Linked DNA regions of Homo sapiens. The protein of the gene in region 1 interacts with the protein of each later gene in a pairwise test. Each region holds a gene or a part of one and is shown in the gene's direction. Other genes may lie near its edges.

Region 1 (3,500 bases):
AAAATCAATCTCACCTAGTGTCACTGATCTAGGAGACACCTGGAGATGGAGGACTAAGAGTGCTGTGGTCCTCAGGGGGTTTCTGGATGGTGAAGATGACCTGCCCTAGGCAGCATTGTAAAAGCTGGGACCTCTACCCTCGGCTCCCCTGAGAACTCTGCCTGAGCCTCTGGGTCTCGGCGGTTGGGGTGGCCTGGGTGCTGGAGAGTCTCGTGCTGGGTGACTCCTCTGGTCTGCCTAGGAGCAGTCACTGGTCCTCACCCGAGACAGCCAAGCACAGCCGGGGCTGGGAGTGGATTCCCTGGGCCGGCCCCCTTGCTGGTGTCCTGCCTGCTTGACCCCCGTTAGCTGCCGCCATCACAGCCACACTCTGACATCCATCCTGACTATGGGAAGCATCAAATGAAGATGGCCAGGAGCTTCAGAACTCTTAAAACCTGGTGCCTGAAACAGCCAGGAAATTGGAGCCAGAGCTTAAAAAAAAAAAGGAAATAAACGAGAAGACGAAGGCCATCCTGATGCTCCCCCTTGTGCACACAGGGCAGGTGGTTGGAGGCATCTTTTCTGCCCCTGAGGGTCCCACCTGCTGCAGCGTGAACTGGCCACCTCATTCCATGGAGGACTTCGGAAGCCGGCCCCTCAAACCCTGCATCCTCTCTCAGAGGGTGGCCTGGGCCATTTTCCACAGGGAACGTGGAGCCCCTGACAGAGCTGGGAACTCATACCTGCAGGGCTGAGAATGGCTGAGGGCTCCTCCATGGTGATTATCCTCACCTTTCCTCAACCTGCTCACGTCCTTGGCAGCCTCAGACGCTGAGGGCATGAAAGGCCTCTGTCCTGGGAGAGGCGGTACAGCTGCCGCTTGATCCAGGAGCCTATACTGAACCATGGAAAGATCTAGAATCAGCCTGTCCTGAAATAAGGCAGATGGAAAACCTTCTAAACTTGGACCGATGAGACAACCTAGAACCCATCCAGCCCTGGAATGTGGGTGCATCAGGAGTCTTCTAGACCAACAGGACCAGCTAGAGCCTCAGCCAGACCTGACGTCAGAAGGGTTGGGAACTCAGCCAGGCCTAGAATGCTGCCTGCTTACATGGACTTTGGAGCTCCACTGGGAAGGGTGGGGAGAGTTCCCAGGAGGCTGAGGGTTTGGATCTGCTGACTCACCTTGGATGTAGCTCTTACTTCCCACCGGTGCCACACATGGACCTCAGCCACCTGCCAACCACTGCCCATGGTATCTGGCAGCCTGGGACAGACCCATCTGTCTCCAGGAATGCTGGGTGGCCCTCACTCTGACATCTGGATGCCCACGCTCTACTAGGCCAGGTCCTAGGGCCTTTGTAACTGGAGCCAGCCGTGGAACCCACAGCCTTTCCAGCAGGGGCTGTGACCTGCAGTGCCATTGTCACCAGGCCTAGGGGGTTGACAGGGCTCATCGGCCTTTGGAGCTCTGAGATGAGTTGTATCTGGGTGGCTGCAGCTCTGGGTCCACAGACTCGGGCTCACAGCAGACTCTGACCTCCCCATGCCCATCCACGAGACAGCCTTGCCCTTTTCTTTCTTTCTTTTAAGCGACAGCGTTTGTCTTTCTTGGCCAGGCTGGAGTACGTGGTGTGATCTCGGCTCATTGCAACCTCAAACGCATGGACTCAAGTGATCCTCCCACCTCAGCCTCCCAAGTGGACTACAAGTGCATGCCACCATACCCAGCTAATTTTTAAATTTTTTGTAGAGATGGGGTCTTGCTGCGTTGCCTAGGCTGGTCTCGAACCCCTGGCCTCAAGCAGTCCTCCACCTTAGCTTCCCAAAGTGCTGGGATTACAGGTGTGAGCCACGGTGCCCAGCTAAACCGTGCCCTTTATACTACCCTGCTAGGAGAGAAACCTGCACCGTGTTCCCAGAGACTCCATACCCGGGCAGACCATCATGGCTGATGCATTGAGTGTGCTGGGCCATCAGAGCATAGGATGGTGTGGACGGGAGGCCCTGAGGGCAGACTTGGGGGCTCTGACTCCCTCAGCTCCTGCCCAGCTAGTGTGTCCTGGGTGCAAGTGGCAGTGGGGCAGGGCCCTGGAGACGGCTGACTTGGAGTGGACAGAGGAGTGGGCTGCTGTTAGAACAGGGGGCATCCCTGCAGGGGTCCCTGCTGGTGCAGGCAGAGAGTGAGGGGCTTAGGCTCCAGATTGTGTGCAGGCCGGGCTGGGAAGCCTAGGTCCCAAGTTGGAGCTACTGTTCTCCCAGCTGTGCAGAGAAGCTGCCACCTTGGCAGGGTCCAGCTGGGCAGGAGTGTGGCCCTGCCTGCTGAAGGATGTGGTGGTGCTGCCCTTGGGGAAATGATGCCAACTTCCCTCCTGTTCCCAAACCAAGCCCTTGGCTACTCCCACCCCTCTTTAGGGTTCCTAGTTATCCCTAGCTCGACCTGGGGTCTGCCAGGGCAGTTGCCAAACCAGAGCTGGCCACCCTGGGCACTGGGGAGGTGGTATCAGCCCTGGCTCTGAGGCCTGGCTCCTTCTCCCCGGAGTGGACAGGGACAGGCATCAGGGGCTCCCCAAGACCCTTCTCCTGGTCTTGCATTTGTTAGAACCATTGCCCTTCAGAGGACAGGGTACCGGCACCTGCCTTCTCTCCAGTCCCCATCCGCCACCACTAGGTGTGGTGTGCATACGCTCTGGCATGTGTGCACATATGTATGCACTGTGGTGCATGTGTGTGCATGGTTTCTGTGTGCGTGTGTGTATGCCTGTGTTGTGGCATGTGTGCAAGGGCCCTGTTGCATGTGTGTGCTGTGGCACACTTGCCATCCCTCCTGTCTGCCTCTGTTTCTCCCTGTGGGCTCCCTGAGTGAGCGGCAGTAGGGGATTTGTGCCGTCATGTCTCTGGGTGCCTGGTGTTGACAGGTGTGTGTCCTTTCCTGGATGTGTCTGGATCTGCATGATATGTGTGTGTTGGGAAGGAAGGGACCATGTGACCCTGTGCCTGTTGCACAGGCCTGTGTGTCTCACACTCGTTTACATGGGTTGGGTGGGGAGGATGTATGTCCTGGCTCGTTTACTGGGTGTGTGGCTGTTGGCCGGGGTGTTGGATGGTTCATGTGCATTTTCTGGGTGGGTCTATCTGGCAAGGGTGTGTGCACCAGGCCTGTGACCAGCTGGTTTGTGTGTAGGGGGTAAGGTGCCTGTGTCTTGCTATACCTTTCCAGGCCTGTAACATAACGTGTGTTGGCAGGCTGGTGTGTACAGCTGGGTGTGTCCCTCTCTGGCTGTGACTTGCGGGTGTAGGCAGGATGTGTGGTGTGTCCTGTTAACTGTAGCCTGGCTGCCCCAGGTGTGTGCAGATGTTGTCAGGCCTGGAACAGTTCCAGAGTCACCCATGTCAGGTCCCTCGCCCCTCCAGCCGTGTGGGCCCTCAGGAGTGGGGGCGGGGTGTGGGAAGACAGGCAGACTTGTCCCCATCCCTTCAGACATCCCACCTCGCCTGTCTCTCCCAGGATAAGC
Region 2 (3,500 bases), on another chromosome or scaffold:
ACCACCAGTCATCAGCCTGCCCCACAGCTGCCCGGTTCACCCTGGAGAGAGGAGCAGGGTGCTCACTGCCTGCCTCCAGCTGGCCACACTGAGCTCTCCTCACCTCTTCAAGTAGGTCCCGCCCTTCCCCACACCAGCATCATCGCAAGCACTGCACCCTCCATGCTCCACCCTCTGCCTACCCGACCCTTACCCAGATCACCACCACAGCCTCCTTCCTCCTGAGAAAACTTCCCGACCTCTCACACTAGTGTACTTTGCTCATTAAACACTCCCAAGGCACTAGAGTGAATATTTAATTAGTCAAGATGTTAATGATCCAAAAGTCAACATTTTGGATGTGTTTATTAATTCAAAACTTGCATATGGTTCTTGCAAAGGATGTGGTGTTCATCCCTATGAGAAAGAATTCTGAACATTTCTTTACGCTGCCTCATGTGGATCCCAGATGGACACCAGTTTGCAAGAGAGAAAAGAAAAAAACAATTTGACAACTTTTTGTTGATTTGGCAGCTTTTTGTTTTATATGGTTTTAGATGGAAATGTGATTCAGTGTGCTGTTTAGTTTGGGTAAGAATCACTGGACGAAGAAAGATACCGTGAATCCCTTTTTTCTGGTGCTCTGGGGGTTTACTTGGCCAAATGGGTTTTGGGCCACCAGGTGTCCTGTATTTGGGCTAGATGTAAGAAGTATGGACGGCACTGTCCCTCCCCACAGTGAACTCACAGCCACGTAGCATAATGGAGAATGGGACCCACATCACACCCCATGACAGCAGTGTAGTTCAGAGCAAGAATGACCTCCAGAACAGGGTAGCCATGCAGTGATGGCCTCTTCAGACATTTGGGCAAGGTTCCGCCTTTCGAGAAAAACACAGGTCCTTTCTGAATTCGGCCTGGCTATACTTTCTGAATGCCAGTTCCTATGTGCTGCCACTCTTAAGCTTGATCCTGGGATCTCCTGATTGGATGCCGCATAATGTCTCTTGCAGAATGAAGAGGAAGTCTTAGTGGAATGTCGTGTGCGATTCCTGTCCTTCATGGGTGTTGGGAAGGACGTCCACACATTTGCCTTCATCATGGACACGGGGAACCAGCGCTTTGAGTGCCACGTTTTCTGGTGCGAGCCTAATGCTGGTAACGTGTCTGAGGCGGTGCAGGCCGCCTGCATGGTGAGTTATCCCGGTACAGGCTGTTGAGCCCTCCCGCCTCTGCTCATCTCTAATATGCCATACATTATAGCAGAATCACTCACGGAAATGAAAAAAGTCGAATCCCTAAAGTAATGCTTTACTTTATAACGCCGTCATTCCTAGGGCCAGAATCAGTTATGATAAACAGATTACATCTCCAAAGGCCAGAACTCCTGAAAGAAGTGGGGCCAGATAGAGGCTCCGATGAGTTTCATAACCACCACCTTGACGACGGTCAATCCTTGATCCCAAATCAATTTCATGTGTGAAATGTTGGTCGTGTATGAGTTGGTACTGTTTGGGTTCAATTCAGTACTTTAAAAATCAATACATTGAATGACTTTTGTTTCCAGTGATTGGTTTCTGTACACCGTTCTTATATATTTTATTTATATCTGTTAACTCAGTCCTTCCGACAACTCTGTTAGGTAGTTGTTAGTTCTGTTTTATTTATGAGAAAATAGAGACTTTAGGGAAGTTAGAGAATGGGCCTCAGGGCTTGTCGGTAAGTGACAGAGCCGAGCCTGGATTCAGCCCCAAGCTGCCAGGTGACAAAGTCAGAGCTCTTTATACCACATGGATACTTGGAAACAAACAAGAATCCCTCATTATTCCTTCAGCATGTGTCTTTGTGCCCCTCTTATGCCAGACACTGCAAAAGTTCTAATAAAAATGAGGGAACTGGGCCGGGGGTGGTGGCTTACGCCTGTAATCCCAACACTCTGGGAGGCTGAGGCAGGCGGATCACTTGAGGTCAGAAGTTCAAGACCAGCCTGACCAAATGGAGAAGCCCTGTCTCTACTAAAAATACAAAATTAGCCAGCGTGGTGGCGCATCCCTGTAATCCCAGCTACTCGGGAGGCTGAGGCAGGAGAATCACTTGAACCTGAGAGGCAGAGGTTGCAGTGAACCGAGATCGCGTCATTGCACTCCAGCCTGGGCAACAAGAGGGAAACCCATCTCAAAAAAAAATGAGGGAGCTATATGAGTGTGGGCACCAAAGCCTGTGGGCAGGTGTGTTCCAGCAGCAGCAGGTTGGGTGCTGGGCCCGAGTGGAAGGAGGTGCGGTCCAGATCATGGCGGGCTTATGATGATGGCGTGTGGGGGCCTGATTTTCTTCAGCAAGGATTGCTAAACTGGGGATTGAATTGATTGTATTTAGATTATTTATTTATTTATTTATTGAGATGAAGTTTTGCTTTTGTTGCCCAGGCTGGAGTGCAATGGCGCGATCTCAGCTCACTGCAACCTTCGCCTCCTGGGTTTAAGTGATTCTCTTGCCTCAGCCTCCCAAATAGCTGGGATTACAGGCACCTGCCACCACGCCTGGCTAATTTTTTATATTTTTAGTAGAGATGGGGCTTCATCATGTTGGCCAGGCTGGTCTCAAACTCCTGACCTCAGGTAATCCACCCGCCTCAGCCTCCCAAGTGCTGGGATTACCGGCATGAGCCACCGCACCCAGCCTGTATTTAGATTTTAGACGAGTATCCAGCAAAAAAAGAAGACAACCAAGTAGAGGATAGGTTGGAGGAACAAGGCTGAGGTGGCGATCAGCCAGGAGCCCAGTTACCTTCTGCAGATGGGAGAGAGGAGGAGCGTCCACGCTAGGAGAGCAGCGTTGGGAACAAACAGGAGCAGAGGCTTTGAGAAGCACCGAGCTGCCTGGCTGGGGGAGAACTGCTGCATGTGAAGCCCCTGGGCTTCATTTAATTCAGCCTCGCACTTACGGGCTGGAATCTGGGGCATTCAGCATGACTGAGATACAGTCCTTGCATTGTAGAGCTCAGGTATAGTGGGGGAGACACAGAAACCTAAACTCTGTTACAGTGTAGAAAGTGCTGTAAATAAAAGTATGAGGATCTTCACTTTCAGCCGGGCGTGGTGGCACATGCCTGTAGTCCCAGCTTCTGAGGAGGCTAAGGTGGGAGGATGGCTCAAACCCAGGAGGTCGAGGTGCAGTGAGCTACGATGGCACCACTGTAGTCCAGCCTGGGTGACAGAGCGAGACCCTGTCTCAAAAAAATAAATAAGAAAAATAAGTATGAGACTGTGCTGGATTGAGAAGTAACTGGGAAGAAAAAGAAGTGGAGGCCCTAAAAGCAGATAACTTACAAAGTTTGCCAGTGAGGGGGAGCTTGAAGGGCAGCATTGGAGGGTTTGTTCATGTGTTTATTTCAGGACAGGAGAGGCCTGCCCCTTTTTTATTCTTTATTTTTATTTTATTTTATTTTTTTTAAGAGATGGGATCTTGCTATATTCCCCAGGTTGGTCTTGAACTCCTCCCTGGAACGGCAGGGGAGCACC
Region 3 (3,500 bases), on another chromosome or scaffold:
AGCTACTCGGAAGGCTGAGGCAGGAGAATCACTTGAACCCGGGAGGCAGAGGTTGCAGTGATCCGAGATTGTGCCACTGCACTCCAGTATGGGCAACAGAGCAAAATTCTGTCTCAAAAAAAAAAAAAAAAAAGCACAACTAAGTGTTCCTTAATGATGGGTGGGGTTGGGAGCAAGAGGATGGGGACCTATCTTTTCCTCCTAGGAGATAAGGGTTCCTCTCTGTTATTAGAGTTTGATAAACTGAAAGTGTCTGTTGGTTGGCGTATGGTTCTTTAGGATGATTGACAGTGGCAGTACCTGGACTAACGTGACTTTAGCTTCTTTTGGATGATTCCCTCTTGTCTTTCTGACCTTAGGACCTTCTACCGCTTTGAGGCTGTGTGGGATAGCTCTCTGCATAACTCCCTTCTTCTGAACCGAGTGACACCCTATGGAGAAAAGATCTACATGACCTTGTCGGCCTACCTAGAGGTGAGGAGACTTGGAACTTCAGTTGATGCCAACAGTCAGCCCTGAACAGTGTGCAGGTTACAGCAGGAAGTGGTCAGCGAAGATTCCACTTGTTTTGTCCTCTTTCTTCCTCCACATCCTTAAGTTTTTCATTTTATTATACATTGCTAACTCTTCTGATTATATTAGACTCTATTCCTGGGTTCTGTTTACTCAAAAAATCACATGACTCATTGCAGCTTCAGCTTTAGTAGCCTAATCACCATTGTTTGAAGAATGTGTGATTTTTAAGAAAATGTCACCTCTTGTTTTTGTAGTTGTGGACAGAGTGTAATAGTGGTTAATAGCCCAGACCCAAGACCCAGCCTGTCGGTTCAAATCCCTGTGCTGCCACTTACTTCCTCTATGTCCTTGGAGAAACTCTCTTTGCCTCAGTTTCCTCACCTATCAGGAGAAACAACATTTACCTCAGATAAAAATAAATGCATCTCTAAGGAGTACTACCTACTCTTGCACATATTATCCATTGGGTGGCTGTTGAAATAATTGGTGGAGCTAAAATCCTTCAGTTCTCACAACTGGGACTCGCTTTCCAAATACGTTCGTGTATAGACTCTAGTCACAGTACTCTGCCTGCACTTCATCAGCACCTACCCTGTCTGCTTTCAGCTGGATCATTGCATCCAGCCGGCTGTCATCACCAAGGATGTGTGCATGGTCTTCTACTCCCGAGATGCCAAGATCTCACCACCACGCTCTCTGCGTAGCCTCTTTGGCAGCGGCTACTCAAAGTCACCAGATTCGTAAGTTTTTCACACAAGTTAGCTTCCAGTGTGTTTGTTCAGTACAACAGAATCATTAGTCCTTAAGTATTCTCGGCTTACTGTCTCACGGTTAGTTTACAGTTTATGAACCATTTTGGTAACTGACACCTGGAATGTACTGACTTGCATGCTGACATTTAATAAAATGTTGATGGATGGACGAGTTATGAGGGAAGGAAGGAATATTACATTGTGAACACGTCTAAAACAATTTTGCAAAGACTAAATTTGCAAAGACTTTTAAATGTCATCATCATTATTTCTAACAGAGTACCATTGAAATTTTCTTCTTTTTAAGATTTGTTATGCATATTTAAGGCATACAAAATATGTCAGGAATAATACAGTGAAGGCCATACACAGTGGCTCATGTCTGTAATCCCAGCACGTTGGGAGGCTGAGGACAGAGAATTGCTTAAGCCTAGGAGTTTGAGACCAGCCTGGGCAACACAGACCCCATCTCCACAGAAAATTTTAAAATTACCCAGGTGTGGTGACACACACCTGTAGTCCCAGCTACTCAGGAGGCTGAGGTGGGAGGATCACTTGAGCTTGGGAGGTTGAGGTTGCAGTGAGCCATGATAGAGCCACTGCACTCCAGCCTGGGTGAAACAGTGAGACCCTGTCTCAAAATTTAAAAAAAAGAAAAGAAAAAGGAAAAAAAAAAAAAAGAAAGAAACAATACAATGAATACCTGTGTATCACCGCCCAGCTTAAAAATAAGTGTTACTAATACAATAGAAGGTATTATACCTCCTACTACTCACAATCCCCAGAAGTTGTTGATTATCATTTCATTCTAGTCATTGTTTCCCTCATATCGTCTCTCTTATAGTAAGAAAAGACAAATTTTTAGTTTTCACATTTATATTTTAAATTTTCTAGTTTATCATTCAATTTTATTCACCCTATTGAAATAAAGTGTTTAAAAGATAGAGATGAGGTGGGGCATGGTGGCTTATGCCTATAATCTCAGCACTTTTTGATGCCAAGGTGGAAGGATCACTTGAGGCCAGGAGTTCAAGACCAGCCTGGGCAACATAAGGAGACCCTATCTCTACAAAAAAACTTAAAAATTAGCTGGGTATAGTGGTGTATGCCTGAAGTCCCAACTACTCAGGAGGCTGAGGCAGAAGGATCACATTAGTCCAGGAGTTCGAGGCTGCAGTAAGTTGTGATTACATCACTGCACTCCAGCCTGGGTGACACAGGGAAACCCTATCTATAAAAAAATTAAATTGAGATGAAAGCGGACTCCTCTAGGAAAAGGTATGCTACTTAGGTTCAAAATAAGAAAAGAGCGGTGACAAATAAGAAATGCCTGGAATTATATTTGAGTCCCTGCAGAGAAGACACTATTTTAAGTAGCAGAAATTGAAATTTTCCTGTTTTTGTGCTTTAAGAGATTAAACAATTGTTTTATTTTCTTCAAATAGGAATCGAGTCACTGGCATTTACGAACTCAGCTTATGCAAAATGTCAGACACAGGTAGTCCAGGTAAGCTCTTGTGGATTGAGGAGGTGATAGTTATCTTTGTGTATGTTTCAAGTATCCTGTATTTAGGCTGGGCACGGTGGCACACACCTGTAATCCCAGCGCTTTGGGAGGCCAAGGCGGGTGGATCACCTGAGTCCAGGAGTTCAAGAGCAGCCTGACCAACATGGTGAAGCCCCCCTTTCTACCAAAAATACAAAAATTAGCCAGGTGTGGTGGCGCGTGCCTGTAATCCCAGCTACTCAGGAGGCTGAGGCATGAGAATTGCTTGAACCTGGGAGGCAGAGGTTACAGTGAGCCGAGATTGTGCCACTGCACTGCAGCCTAGGTGACAGAGTGAGACTCAGTCTCAAAAAAGAAAAAGAAAAAAAAATCAAATTATTAAGTCAGATTTGTTCTGTATTCTTTTTAATGTGTTTTTAAACTGCTCTTGTTCCTCTAGCTAGGCGGAGTTAAGCAGCACTTAGCATTTCTATGTTTGTAAACCGAAACATGAACAAAAGTTAAGGTTTTCTAATAGCATTTGATTAATGTGAGTTTGAGTCATTTTACAGAATATACATGGAAAACAAGTCAGGGCCCACAGGCAAGACTTAGATAAGTAAAGAAGACTTTGAGTATGAATCCAAGTAGCACCTAATTATTATACTATCCAGATAGTTTCTTGAGGAATTTTTTTAATTAATATAAATTCATGTATTTAATATGTAAAACCAGCATAATACTAA
Region 4 (3,500 bases), on another chromosome or scaffold:
TTGTTCTGACCTCATTTCAACTCAGTCACCCAAGCCAACCTCTGAGTTGCCTTTCACCTGTCTATTCCTCCCATTTCCTCTGCTACCCTGTAGCTGAAGGCCATGTTATCTCTCACCTGGGCTTCTGAAGTAGTTTCTGAATACGTTTTCTTGCCTTTATTCTCTCCCCATCTCATTCACCCATGATATTACTACATCTTTGATTATAAATGCAAATATTCTAACAATCTCACCTGCTTACAATGTCTAATATTTTTTCATCATCCGCAGAATAAACTGCAAACTCTTTTACATGACTTCCATAGCTCTCTACAGCCTAGACTTTACATCTTTTTATAGCCTGGCCTCCCCACAAGCATCTAGGCCTAGTCACACCAAATTCTCCTTATTTCCTGAAAATGTTGTACTTATTATTGCTTCCATACAGTTACACACCCTTTTGCCTGGAATGCCCTTTTCTACAACTGGTGATTGTCCAATGTTATTTAAAACTGTGTCTTAGTGACCCTTTCATGATTCCTTTAGGCAAATGGTCTCTAAGTTTTATTAGTTTTATGTATCACATTTTATTGTAATTTTTTTTACACATATCTCACCTGAATAGATTGTGGGTTTTTCTAGGTGGGTCTGAGCTTTATTCAAAAGTGTTTATTAAATTAGATGAGAAAAGGAGGAACATTCTTCATTTTTTCTCCTGCTTTAAGCACTAAACCAAGAGTTCTATAAATGCAATAAGCAAAAAAGTGAAAAATGTACTCAGAAGACTATACTGGATCAGTTAGTGTAGAATACTGTTATATTAATTTTTCATTGTATTAGGGTTCTCTAGAGGGATGGAACTAATGGAATATATATGTATGTATATATATTCCAACCCAAAGTGTCTTGGTGGCAATCTTAATATATATATATTGGCAATCTTTATATATATATAAAGGAGAGTTTGTTAAGTATTAATTCACATGATCACGAGGTCCCACAATAGGCTGTCTGCAGGCTGAGGAGCAAGGAGAGCCAGTCTTGAGTTCCAAAACCGAAGAACTTGGGGTTCGATATTTGAGGGCAGGAAACATCCAGCACGGGAAAAAGATGTAGGCTGGGAGGCTAGGCCAGTCTCGCTTTTTCATGTTTTTCTGCCTGCTTTATATTTGCTGACAGATGATCAAATGGTGTCCATCCAGATTAAGGGTGGGTCTGCCTTCCCCAGCCCACTGACTCAAATGTTAATCTCCTTTGGCAACACCTTCACAGACACACCCAAGATCAATACTTTGTATCCTTCAATTCAATCAAGTTGACACACTCAGTTTTAACCACCACAAATCTACCCCTTGTCAACTTGAACCCATACACATCTCCTGAGATCACACATAATCTTCAAATAAAGACAATAATTAGGTCATAATTACACCTGATGTAGTACAACTATTCTTCGTACATCCGGAAACACACCAGTCCCCAACTGAAACACTCTTACATAAAGTTAACGATACTTAAATGCTGATGTGAAGTCAATAAATCTTATGTCACATGATAAAGGAGAAAGGAAATAAAATGAAGATATTTTCTTAGTACAAGTGTGTGCAAGCACAGACATGTTTTTAATAAAAGAAGGAGGAAATACTGAGGACAATTACAGTCCTCATTTCTGCAGCTGGTCACATGGTAGTAGCTGGTATTGATGACTACCTTCTTCTACCCATTTTGTATTCCTTTTGCCTTCAGCAAACACCTCAGCAGGTTGTGTTTTTTTTTTTCCTGATGGAGAGGCCCAAACCTTCATTCATCCAGGCGGGACCATTTGTAGTCCCGCCTGGATTGGGCTGTTGTAGTTGCCCATTGACCTTAATCACAGGGCATGGTAATACTAAGAGACGCCCTAATGGATCTCCTGTATTCCATGAATACTCTTTCTTACCTCCGTTCTGGAGTAGTAGACTGATTTCATCTTGATAGCCTGGGTCTTGATAGCCTTGATGTCCCAGCCAACACTGTAACGCCTTTCTTAGCCTGTTTACTTAAAGGTAGGAACCCAAAGTGTCCTGGTGGCAATCTTAACTACCAGTTTAATGGAATTGTTGTTGTGTCTTCTGGTGGCAGCGTTCCTCCCTCTGGAACTAAGACCTCTAGGCCAGCAGAACTTAATGTTGCGGGAACAGGAAGCAAACATTTTGCTAGTGGATCACTAGGGGTGATGGTGAGTGGTACCACTTCCATTTCCACCCCTTGATTCCTGGACCTGTGAATCCTGGCTATGGGAGAAACAGTACCACATATTGGACGCTGATTCAGAGCATACACAGCCTTCTTGAGAACTTTGCCCCAACCCTGCAAAGTATTCTCACCTAGTTGGCATTGTAATTGTGACTGCAAAAGGCCATTCCACCGTTCTGCTTCAGGATGTTGGGGAACATGGTAAGACCAGTGAATTCCATGAGCATGAGCCCACTGCTGCACTTCTTTAGCCATAAAGTGAATGCCTTGGTCAGAGGCAATGCTGTGTGGAATACCATGACAGTGGATAAGGCATTCCATGAGTCCGCGGATGGTAGTCTTGGCAGAACCATTGCATGCAGGATAGGCAAACCCATATCCAGAGTAAGTGTTTATTCCAGTAAAGACAAACATCTGCCCTTTTCACAATGGAAGAAGTCCAACATAATCAACCTGCCACCAAGTAGCTGGCTGATCACCCTGAGGAATAGTGCCATATCAAAGGCGCAGTGTTGGTTTCTGCTGCTGGCAAATTGGGCACTCTGCGGTGGCAGTAGCCAGGTCAGCTTTCCACCGGCCCATCTTGTTTTCTGCACTGGGAAGGTGGGGCATGAGCACAAATGTTAGGACCTGAAAGGTGGTGAACTCTGCCTGGGCAGGGCAAAGCCAGAGGAAACTCTGGTGGAGGTCCGTAGCAGTCCTGATGTGCAAATCGGTCATCCAACCTGGGTGTAGGGGCGAAAGACTAATTGAACCATCTAGTAGCTGGTTCCCTCCAAAGTTTCCCTCGGGATAGCTGGCACTCTCGCAAAAACCCCACTCTTGGTACCAATTTACTGTATTAGTCCATTTTCACGCTGCTGATAAAGATATCCCCGAGACCGGGAAGAAAAGAGGTTTAATTGGACTTACAGTTCCATATGGCTGGGGAGGCCTCAGAATTATGGTGGGAGGCAAAAGGCACTTCTTTCATGGTGGTGGCAAGAGAAAATTAGGAAGAAGCAAAAGCAGAACCCCTGAGAAACCCATCAGATCTCATGAGACTTATTCACTATCATGAGAATAGCACAGGAAAGACTGGCCCCCATGATACAGTTACCCCACTGGGTCCCTCCCACAACACATGGGAATTCTGGGAGATACAATTCAAGTTGAGATTTGGGTGGGGACACTACCAAACCATATCATTCATCAAAAGGTGTTGGTGGGGTAGAGGGTAGTTAGGATGATCCATGATCTCCATCATGATGATGATGGTATTGATGATGTAAGTCACTGAAAATATT
Region 5 (3,500 bases), on another chromosome or scaffold:
ATGAACATAAATCTTTGACCATTTCTGATTATTTCCTTAGAATAAATCCCTAGGAAGGTAATTATTAAGTTAAAGGGTAGATACCATTTTTCAGGCTTTTGATACCTGTTGCCAAATTATTCCCCAGAAAAGTTGAACAAATCTGTCTCATCAGCAGTAATACAATATTAATAATATTTATTTATGTATTTATTTTTTGAGACGGAGTTTCACTCTTACTGCCCAGGAGTGCAGTGGTGCGATCTCAGCTCACTGCAACCTCCGCCACCCAGGTTCAAGCAGTTCTCCTGCCTCAGCCTCCCGAGTAGCTGGGATTACAGGCACGTGCCACCACGCCCAGCTAATATTTTGTATTTTTAGTAGAGACAGGGTTTCACCATGTTGGCCAGGCTGGTTTCAAACTCCTGACCTCAGGTGATCCCCCACACCTTGGCCTCCCAAAGTGCTGGGATTATAGGTGTGAGCTACCGTGCCCGGCTATAATATTTAATGTATAGTGAATGCCTAAGATGTGCTAGTTTCCATGCTAAGCATTTAGTATACATTGTGTTTAATCCCCTCAAAACTGCTATGAGGAATAACTCTTACTATCCCTATTTTACAGAGAAGAGAACTACAGTAAGATGCAGAGTAACTTGCCCAGCTCTGGGTATTATTGTTCCTTTAAATTTTTGCTGACAAGATCTCTCACCTGGCTTTAAAAACTTAGATATTCTAAAATTTTGACTCTATTCTCTTCAATATTTGTAAATAACTTTGGTTTATTTGGTTATTCTGTACTAGCTGAGAGGAGGAAGACTTGAACTTTGGTTGCCTAGGGTTTTCCTGAGAACTGTATCTTCTGGTTGTGGTTAGTTAATCCCATGTATTTTGCACATGCCAATATCTCCATAATCTAAATTCTTCAGATTTTCTTAAGACTACTATCCACCTTTTAGATTCACTTTTGGTGTTTCCTGACATTCCATTTCAATTGGATACACTTATGCCTGACCTTAAAGGAAAGGGAAAAGAGAAGCTAGTTTTTTCACTCATTGGATAGACATAGCCAGTCTTCTGGCCTCACCAAAACAGCTGAGAGAATGATTGGCCCAAAGCCATTTGGAGAACACTCCATTAACTAGAGGGAGAGAACAAGGAGTATTACTCTCTAAATTGCTGAATTAGGTTTTTCCACTTAATAGATTATGTTAGGAGCAAACAGGTTTTAGGCACAAATATTCTTCTCGATCACTGCCATAACTTAGAAGAAGCCATAAGAATAAGGTTAAGATTTTTAGAGGACTTGTTGAACCAAGCTGTATAATCAGAGTGCAATTCACGGACTTTTTAAGACTTTGTCAAACAAAGTCTGTATGTTATAGTACTACTATAGGGAAAGATTGGTTTTAATAAGTGAAATTAGAATTATACACATTAAAACAAGGCAGTATCACCTAGTTTACTTGCACCACCTTATTTTATTTATGTATTTGCTTTCTAAGTTTCTCTACTTTTATTTCATTTTTGTAAGATCTTTTCAAAAGCCCCACATTTTTTAAACAGTTAAATAACCTTTTCAAGTTATTAGATACATGCCTTATAACAAACACCTTCTATGCTGAAGGTAGCTTTTAATTTTAAAAAGTTTGAGCCGGGTGCGGTGGCTCACGTCTGTAATCCCAGCACTTTGGGAGGCCGAGGCGGGTGGATCACGAGGTCAGGAGATCGAGACCATCCTGGCTAACACGGTGAAACCCTGTCTCTACTAAAAATACAAAAAATTAGCTGGGCATGGTGGCAGACGCCTGTAGTCCCAGCTACTCGGGAGGCTGAGACAGGAGAATGGTGTGAACCCAGGAGGCGGAGCTTGCAGTGAGCTGAGATCCTGCCACTGCACTCCAGCCTGGGCAACAGAGCGAGACTCCATCTCAAAAAAAAAAAAAAAAAAAAGTTTGGCTTTGAGAAATAGCTGAGCTGTTGATTGATTATTAAGTGATATAATAACAAAAATGGTACTAGCGACTGTATTGGGTGGTAAGCTGATAAGTGATTTTTATTTATTTTTATTTTTTGTTTGATAAGTGATTTATAAAAAATTATTATTCAAGCCTTATGTGATGTTAGAATATGTATATTTTAAAAATAATCACCTTGGCTGGGTGCGGTGGCTCACACCTGTAATTCCAGCACTTTGGGAGGCCAAGGCAGGCGGATCACCTGAGGTCAGGAGTTTGAGACCAGCCTGGCCAATGTGGCAAAACCCCATCTCTACTAAAAATACAAAAATTAGCCAGGCGTGGTGGCACACACCTGTAGTCCCAGCTACTTGGGTGGCTGAGGCAGGAGAATCACTTGAACCTGGGAGGCAGAGGTTGCAGTGAGCAGAGATCACACCATTGCACTCCAGCCTGGGTGACAGAGTGAGATTCCGTCTCAAAAAAAATAAATACAATTTAAAAAATAAAATAATCAACTCTATTAAAGCTATATATTTATCAGATGCCCTTTGATGTTTTAATTAGCAGTGATAATTTAATTTTTAAATAGTATCTCACCTGCTTTCAAGAAAGGATTTGAAGTATGTTTGATAGTCACTAGTACAAACCGTTTGTTAAGGTAGGTATCAGAAGCCTTATAGAACCATGGACTACAGTAATTGTGGCAACTATTTGGCATAAAACAATTTCTAAAGTTTAGTGTTACTTTTTATTTTATTTATGTATTTATTTATTTATTTTTTTGAGATGGAGTCTAGCTCTGTCTCCCAGGCTGGAGTGCAGTGGCGCGATCTCGGTTCACTGCAAGCTCTGTCTCTCGGGTTCACGCCATTCTCCTGCCTCAGCCTCCCGAGTAGCTGGGACTATAAGCGCCCACCACCACGCCCAGCTAATGGCTAATTTTTTTTTTTTTTTTGTATTTTTAGTAGAGACGGGGTTTCACCATGTTAGCCAGGATGGTCTCGATCTCCTGACCTCAGGTGATCTGCCCACCTCGGCCTCCTAAAGTGCTGGGATTACAGGCGTGAGCCACCGCCCCAGCCTAGTGTTACATTTTTTTAACTGTATCCCTTGGCTTCCTGACAGCCAGAGGGATAAAGGCATATGCAATCGATTATGTGGTTTTTATTTTCATAAAGTTATTTAGAAACTTCCAGGCAAAAAATCCTAAGAATTTTATGGGTGAGACCTCTAAATAGTGATATCGAGTAACATCATGGACAATATAACAATTTTGTGGGTATTTTTTATATTGACTGATAGTTGAGGCATTTGTAAAGGGAGATAAGCCACTGTGGTCTAAGAATGTTGTTTTCTGGTCTTACTTGATAATGATAAAGTTTTTTGTTTTTTTTTTTTTTGAGACAGAGTCTCGCTCTCTCGCTCTGTCTCCCAGGCTGGAGTGCAATGACTTGATCTCGGTTCACTGCAAGCTCTGCCTCCCAGGTTCACGCCATTCCCCTGCCTCAGCCTCCCGAGTAGCTGGGACTACAGGCGCCCGCCACCACACCTGGCTAATTT
Region 6 (3,500 bases), on another chromosome or scaffold:
ACATAATATATATGGAAACCAAATTCAGGGTTGATTCTTTCTTTCTTTCTCCCTTCCTTTCTTTCTTTCTTTCTCTTTCTTTCTTTCTTTCTTTCTTTCTTTCTTTCTTTCTTTCTTTCTTTCTTTCTCTCTCTTTCTCTCTTCCTCTCTCTTTCCCTCTCTCTTTCTGTCTTTCTTTCTTCTCACTCTGTTGCTTAGTACAGTGGCGCAGTCTCGGCTCACTGCAACCTCCACCTCTTGGGTTCGAGTGATTCTTGTGCCTCAGCCTCCCAGGTAGCTGGGATTACAGGCATGCGCTATGAAGCCCGGCTAATTTTTGTATTTTTAGAAAAGATGGCGTTTCACCGTGTTGGCCAGGCTGGTCTCAAACTCCTAACCACAAGTGATCTGCCCACCTCAGCCTCCCAAAGTGCTGGGATTACAGGCATCAGCCACCACTTCCGGCCCGGGGATCTTTCTGTTTCAGTTGTGGGCATCACTCTGAAAATCACACTTGCTAGAAGTGAGCATTTATATCTCTTCTCCACTGTAAATAAGTGCCTCTTAGTGACATGAGTGGAAAGACAAGAAGAATTGCAGTTCCTTCATTTTCTGTCTTAGCTCCCTGAGATGTATATGCTGTGCCTAAATTTGTGTTATAGTTTTCTCCTTTGATTTGACATTCCTTGATAGGCAGAGAGCACTTTTCTGTGCTCATATGTCACATCTCGCATCTTTTTCCCTTATAGAAAAACTCTTGTGTCTCCCATTTACCTTTCTATGAGGTCAGAGATTTAGATACTTTCCTAGACAATCAACTGGAGTATTAACAAATTCAAGGAGTTCTCGCCATCCCATTACTGGGTATATACCCAAAGAATTATAAATCGTGCTGCTATAAAGACACATGCACACGTATGTTTATTGCGGCACTATTCACAATAGCAAAGACTTGGAACCAACCCAAATGTCCATCAATGATAGACTGGATTAAGAAAATGTGGCACATATACACCATGGAATACTATTCAGCCATAAAAAAGGATGAGTTCATGTCCTTTGTAGGGACATGGATGAAGCTGGAAACCATCATTCTCAGCAAACTATTGCAAGGACAAAAAACTAAACACCGCATGTTCTCACTCATAGGTGGGAATTGAACAATGAGAACACTTGGACACAGGAAGGGGAACATCACAAACCGGGGCCTGTCGTGGGGTGGTGGGACGGGGGAGGGATAGCATTAGGAGATGTACCTAATGTAAATGACGAGTTAATGGGTGCAGCACACCAACATGGCACATATATACATATGTAACAAACCTGCATGTTGTGCACGTGTACCCTAGAACTTAAAGTATAATAATAATAATAATAAAAATTCAAGGAGTTCTTATCTCTGTAGTTTAAATAATAAGCGACTTAGACTAATGACAACAAAAAGCCAGCCATGTGAATACCAAATTTACTAGTTCTGTGAGGATATTTTTTTCTCTTTCTCTTTCTGCCTCAAAGAATCTGCTTTGCTTCCCCTGGCATCATGATTTAGTTTTCAACCCGTCAGAGTCTTCCTGCTAGTGCTGGTACTTTCCTACTTGAGAAAGTCCACGGAATACCTTCGAGACCTCTGTCCTCCTGATGGCTTCTATTTCATTTGTTATATAGGGACCCAGAGGTCCTTCATCATTTTCAAACACATCAACAGATATTTATAGCAAGGCCACAATTAATAAAATGTTTCCCAGAATATATGTGTGTGTTACATTTAGAGGAAACAGAAGTAGTATTGACTTGTTTCTATCACCAGAGGTCTATTTAGTAACTATATTTTGTGGAAAATATCGATATATTTTATCCATTCAACAGACATGATTTGAGAGCATACCACGGAGACCCAACCCTGCCAGTGTGGCAGGTGGTATAATAGAAGAAAATAGCAAACTTGGTGTATCTGTCTTTGCGCACATGTATGTATGTGAGGGGCACTAAGGATGACTTTACAGAGGTTGGAACTTTTGAGTAGAGTTGCCAAGATAGGGAGAGTTCACTAGGAAAACAGAAGGGAAGTTGATTTTTTTTTTTTTTTGAAATGGAGTCTTGCTGTGTCGCCCAGGCTGGAGTGCAGTGGTACAATCTCGGCTCACTGCAACCTCCGCCTCCTGGGTTCAAGTGATTCTTCTGCCTCAGCCTTCCAAGTAGCTGGGATTACAGGTGCGCGCCACCATGCCCAGCTAATTTTTGTATTTTTAGTAGAGACAGGGTTTCACCATATTGGCCGGGCTGGTCTTGAACTCCTTACCTCATGATCTGCCTGCCTCGGCCTTCCAAAGTGCTGGAATTACAGGTGTGAGCCACTGCTCCTGGCCCGGAAGTTGATATTCAAACAGGAGCAGCATATGCAAAGACAGTGAGCTCTGAGAGAGTAGATGGATCCAGACTCCTATTGCTGATAGCGTCCTGCAGGATTGGGCTTCAATGTGACTAACCTACAATTGCCTCCAGGTGCTCCACCCACTGAGTCCTTGTGTCTCTGCTGAGGTCCTTGGAGAGTTACTGGAGAGGGCTCTGTGTCAGATGACCTTGAGGAGGCTCTGATTTAGCCTTTTGTAAAATGCAAAGAGTTGAGGTCTTCTCCACGCAAGAGCTCGCTGATGTCAATGAGGTATTGAGGATGGGGCCATCTCCTATTTCTGTGGCCAGTACTGAGTTTTGTTATCCTTCCTTTAGGTAAGGAGTGCCAATGGACCGATGCCTGCCTGTCTCATCCCTGTGCAAATGGAAGTACCTGTACCACTGTGGCCAACCAGTTCTCCTGCAAATGCCTCACAGGCTTCACAGGGCAGAAGTGTGAGACTGATGTCAATGAGTGTGACATTCCAGGACACTGCCAGCATGGTGGCACCTGCCTCAACCTGCCTGGTTCCTACCAGTGCCAGTGCCTTCAGGGCTTCACAGGCCAGTACTGTGACAGCCTGTATGTGCCCTGTGCACCCTCGCCTTGTGTCAATGGAGGCACCTGTCGGCAGACTGGTGACTTCACTTTTGAGTGCAACTGCCTTCCAGGTAAGGAGCTCCCTAGTGTCCCAGGATTAGGGGACAAACCCCTAGCACAGGAGGTAGTGGGTGTGGCTCAATTGCTTTTTTTAGGAAGCGCAAGGAAAAAGGGAAGTGAGAATTTTGTGTGGGGTGGGTTGCTAGTGAGGGAGGAGTTTTATGGGCCCACTGTGGTCCATAAACTGAGCAGGGGATAATTTAGCATGTCAGGGTTTATGATGATGAGTGGCTAGAAAATTGTTTATTGTCCCTTTTGTAGAAACAGTGAGAAGAGGAACAGAGCTCTGGGAAAGAGACAGGGAAGTCTGGAATGGAAAAGAACACGATGAGAATTAGACACTGGAAAATATGTATGTGTGGTTAATAAAGTGCTTTAAACTGAATTGACATTAACAGTGGGTGATCAACTTTACTATGTGCTTGTGCTTTTGCTTTTGATGGAGTAATTCATTGTTTTCTTATCCACC
Region 7 (3,500 bases), on another chromosome or scaffold:
CTGCACCTCCTCCTCCTCCCTCTCCATCCACTCCCTCCTCTTGCCCACCCCCTCCTCCATGGTTCCTGGCTCCAGGGAAACCTGAGACTGTGGCCCTCGCCTCTGCTGAGCGCCACCCTTGGACACAGGTCGTGGGGTCCTCACTGCTTACCTGGGCTCTCTGCACCATGTCCCTTCCTAAAGGAGGAATGAGGGAAAGGAGACCATCGGGACTGCAGACCAGGCCATGCCTCGGCCTCTCTGCTAGACACTCACAGGCCCCATCCCAGGAGGGCAGGCTCTGTGGGGAAGTGGATCACAGTCCCGAGAGCCTCGCAATCCTGAAATATCAAAACCCCTCAAATCTAAAATCCCAAAAAATATAATTCTAGAAAAAATAAAATTCTGTAAAAGATATTTATTTACTTTTTAAAAATTGTTTTGAGAAGGAGCCTTGCTCTGTCATCCAGGCTGGAGTGCAATTGTGCGATCTCGGCTCACTGCAACCTCCGCCTCCTGGGTTCAAGCGATTCTCCTGCCTTAGCCTCCCGGGTAGCTGGGATTACAGGCATGTGCCACCACGCCTGGCTAATTTTTGTATTTTTAGTAGAGACTGGGCATCACCATGTTGGCCAGGCTGGTCTCGAACTCCTGACCTCAGGTGATCCACCCGCCTCGGCCTCCCAAAGTGCTGGGATTACAGGAATGAGCCACCTCGCCCAGCCTATTTACATATTTTAAAGGGATTTATTTGAGAAACATAAAAACACGACGGAACCCTTCATTGGCCGATAAAATAGACAAAAATAACATACATATTTTTTCAAGCACAAATTCATGCACGCTAGCGACAGGCTCACGGGTGTGAGAACTACGAGCAGATGAACAGTGCTCATGAGGAGCTAGGTCAGAAGGGGTAAGACGTAGGTGCGTAGACTCTGGCTGGTGACTGTGTGCACCTGGCTTTATAACTGGTCATCAAAACACCAAGATGAACAACCCACCTTCTAACAAGATCCATCAAAGGCTTCAGGGACCACCACATACGCAGTCGCCCAGAGAGCCCGGATCTGGAGATATTTTACCTTTCAGAAAGGCAGATGAACGAAAAAGCCATCTCTTCCTTTACTGAAGAGTCCCAGCATTCGGGATTATGGCTGTGGGACTGTCCCTTTCTGGATTACGATCCAGACCCCTCTGGGGCAGCCTCTCCTTCACATCGGCGCGGGAAGCCCGCCTGGAGGAGAGGCCTCTCCGGCAGGCGCTGGGGAGCTCCCAGCAAGGCTTGGAAGGAGGCTCAGAGTTTGGAGGGGGAGCCCCCATGGGGTGGGGGGCCTGAGAAGCAGGAGGGAAATAACCAGGGCTCTCTGCACGGTTCAGAAGAGAGGCTTGGGGGCGGGCAGGGGCCCAGGAAGCTGAGTCTGAGCTGGGAAAATGGTGGAGCCCCAGCACACAGTGACCCCCACACCCACTCAGCACACATGTGCATGGACCCCTGGCCCACCAGACCTGAGTGTGCAGACCTAGGCACCGCACTGCCCTCCCTCAGGTCTCCTTGGAACCAGGTGTTGGGGGCGGCTCGAGCGGGGCTGGTGTGAAAGCTGCCTAACCACAGCCCCATCTCCGCCCTGTGCTGCTGAGGGGACCCCGGCTGCCCACAGGTTCCAGGAGGCTCTGTCTGACTTCTGGCTGGCCCTGGAGCAGCTGAGGGGCCACGCTGCCATCGACTACACGCAGCTGGGCCTGCGGTTCAAGCTGCAAGCCTGGGAGGTGAGGCCGGGCAGGGCTCACTGTGCTGCTGGCTGTGGGGTGTCCACGGGCGGTGGCACTGTCACAGGAGGGCCCTGTGGACTGGGGAGCGCCTCTGGCCGAAGCTCTTGGTGCCATGGAATACCCTGGCCACTCCTTGACCCGCAGGAGGTTCTGGTGGCAGTGGAGGTGGAGGGACCATTTTGTGCCATTTCAGGCCACCAGGGGTGGCTCCACCCAGAAGGAGGGCAGAGGCGAAAGGCTGCTGGGTGGGCAGGGAGCAGGCAGGGGGTTGTGCCCACCCTCCACTGTGCCCCCAGCCCTTTCCTGGCTGCCTGGAACGTGTTGGCACCGAAGGAGGGGTGCTGAGAGGCCCCCCCACCAGACCCCGGAAATGCATCGCCCTGAAGCCTTCTGGGAATAGCATTGTCTTTTAGGACAAAAAGATGGAAGGGAAAGCCCACTGGTGTGGGTCTGGAGTCAGGGTTAAAGCCAGGTGGGGGCCCGCCAGCCCAGGACACAGAACGGTGCAGGGGAGGGGCCGGGTGGGGGGATTGGGAGAGGAGCTGGGTGGGGAGACGGGGGAGAAGCCAGGTGGGGGGACTGGGGGAGAGGCTGGGTGGGGGGATGGGGGAGGGGCCAGGTGGGGGGACTGGGGGAGGGGCTGGGTGGGCAGACCGAGGGAGGAGCTGGGTGGGGGAACCGGGAGAGGGCCTGGGTGGGGCATCAGGCCCCTGCCATCACCTTGGCCCCACTCCCAGGTGCTACACAATGTGGCGTCGGCACAGTGCCAGCTGGGGCTCTGGACAGAGGCGGCCAGCAGCCTAAGGGAGGCCATGTCCAAGTGGCCGGAGGGGTCCCTGAATGGCCTGGACTCAGCCCTGGACCAAGTGCAGGTGAGGAGTGCCAGCCCGGTCATGGTTTTGGGCTGGTGCCTACCAAAGCTCCTCAAGACCAATTTCATGAGATGAAGAAGCTTCCGGAGGGAGATGGCCCTAGTGCCCAGTTTCGGGTGCCAGGCGGGGGCTTCCTGTGACCTGCGGGAAGGGGGTGGGGGGCCCAAGCGGCCCCTTCTGCTCCAAGGCACAGGGGCTCTGCGGCTGCAGGCCTGGTTGGTCACCCCGTCTGCATCTGCTGGATACCCACCCCCTCCAGAGACGGGGCTCACTGCCGCCACGGCAGGTCCCCAGGGGCGAGGTCTTCCGGCCCCACCGGTGGCACCTGAAGCACTTGGAGCCCGTGGATTTCCTGGGCAAGGCCAAGGTAAAGGTGGGGACGGCGTCCTGGGGCATGGCGGCTGGTGCTGAGCCCTCGAACTGTGTTCCCAGGGATGGGGGGAGGTGCAGTCCAGGCCACCGTAAGGGCCAGGAGGGTAGAGAGTGGGCCCACAGCCATCCTCAAACTGGCGCCCACGGTAGGGGGGCGGTGCCCCAAATGGGGCTGTGAGCTTGAAGGCAGAGCCCACTAGAGCCGGCTGCATAGGAGGGGGCTCCAGCTCTCTCAACAAGGACCCTGCAGGTGCCACCCCGCCCCCAGACTGGGCCATGGCCACAGCCACAGCCTTGCAGCCTCCCAGAGTCCCTGCGTCTCTCTGCGTCCTTTCATGCCTTTGTGTCTCCCTGTGTCCCTGCCACAGACAGCGAGGTCCCGGGGGGGTCCCTGCGTCCCTGCCACAGATAGCGAGGTCCCGGGGGGGTCCCTGCGTCCCTGCCACAGATAGCGAGGTCCCGGGGGGGGGGGGTCCCTGCGTCCCTGCCACAGATAGCGAGGTC

Evidence for each region.
Region 2: the proteins of KCTD15 (region 1) and APBB2 interact in binary tests that used the Homo sapiens proteins (3 or more experiments, as listed by UniProt).
Region 3: the proteins of KCTD15 (region 1) and KIF1B interact in binary tests that used the Homo sapiens proteins (3 or more experiments, as listed by UniProt).
Region 4: the proteins of KCTD15 (region 1) and NOTCH2NLC interact in binary tests that used the Homo sapiens proteins (3 or more experiments, as listed by UniProt).
Region 5: the proteins of KCTD15 (region 1) and PRPS1 interact in binary tests that used the Homo sapiens proteins (3 or more experiments, as listed by UniProt).
Region 6: the proteins of KCTD15 (region 1) and NOTCH2NLA interact in binary tests that used the Homo sapiens proteins (3 or more experiments, as listed by UniProt).
Region 7: the proteins of KCTD15 (region 1) and NOXA1 interact in binary tests that used the Homo sapiens proteins (3 or more experiments, as listed by UniProt).

What each region holds. Positions count from the first base shown.
Region 1 is NC_000019.10:33,803,370-33,806,869, forward strand, and holds part of KCTD15 (BTB/POZ domain-containing protein KCTD15), read left to right. Parts: intron 1-3,489; exon of another isoform or gene 3,490-3,493; coding exon 3,494-3,500. UniProt on the Homo sapiens protein: During embryonic development, it is involved in neural crest formation. Inhibits AP2 transcriptional activity by interaction with its activation domain.
Region 2 is NC_000004.12:40,819,543-40,823,042, reverse strand, and holds part of APBB2 (amyloid beta precursor protein binding family B member 2), read left to right. Parts: intron 1-992; coding exon 993-1,172; intron 1,173-3,500. UniProt on the Homo sapiens protein: Plays a role in the maintenance of lens transparency, and may also play a role in muscle cell strength. Involved in hippocampal neurite branching and neuromuscular junction formation, as a result plays a role in spatial memory functioning.
Region 3 is NC_000001.11:10,360,570-10,364,069, forward strand, and holds part of KIF1B (kinesin-like protein KIF1B), read left to right. Parts: intron 1-359; coding exon 360-474; intron 475-1,122; coding exon 1,123-1,256; intron 1,257-2,713; coding exon 2,714-2,775; intron 2,776-3,500. UniProt on the Homo sapiens protein: Has a plus-end-directed microtubule motor activity and functions as a motor for transport of vesicles and organelles along microtubules.
Region 4 is NC_000001.11:149,456,621-149,460,120, forward strand, and holds part of NOTCH2NLC (notch homolog 2 N-terminal-like protein C), read left to right. Parts: intron 1-3,500. UniProt on the Homo sapiens protein: Human-specific protein that promotes neural progenitor proliferation and evolutionary expansion of the brain neocortex by regulating the Notch signaling pathway.
Region 5 is NC_000023.11:107,631,510-107,635,009, forward strand, and holds part of PRPS1 (ribose-phosphate pyrophosphokinase 1), read left to right. Parts: intron 1-3,500. UniProt on the Homo sapiens protein: Catalyzes the synthesis of phosphoribosylpyrophosphate (PRPP) that is essential for nucleotide synthesis.
Region 6 is NC_000001.11:146,156,022-146,159,521, reverse strand, and holds part of NOTCH2NLA (notch homolog 2 N-terminal-like protein A), read left to right. Parts: intron 1-2,706; coding exon 2,707-3,042; coding exon of another isoform or gene 3,043-3,230; exon of another isoform or gene 3,231-3,292; coding exon 3,293-3,369; 3' UTR 3,370-3,500.
Region 7 is NC_000009.12:137,426,393-137,429,892, forward strand, and holds part of NOXA1 (NADPH oxidase activator 1), read left to right. Parts: exon of another isoform or gene 1-1,640; coding exon 1,641-1,749; intron 1,750-2,048; exon of another isoform or gene 2,049-2,224; intron 2,225-2,489; coding exon 2,490-2,624; intron 2,625-2,883; coding exon 2,884-2,991; intron 2,992-3,500.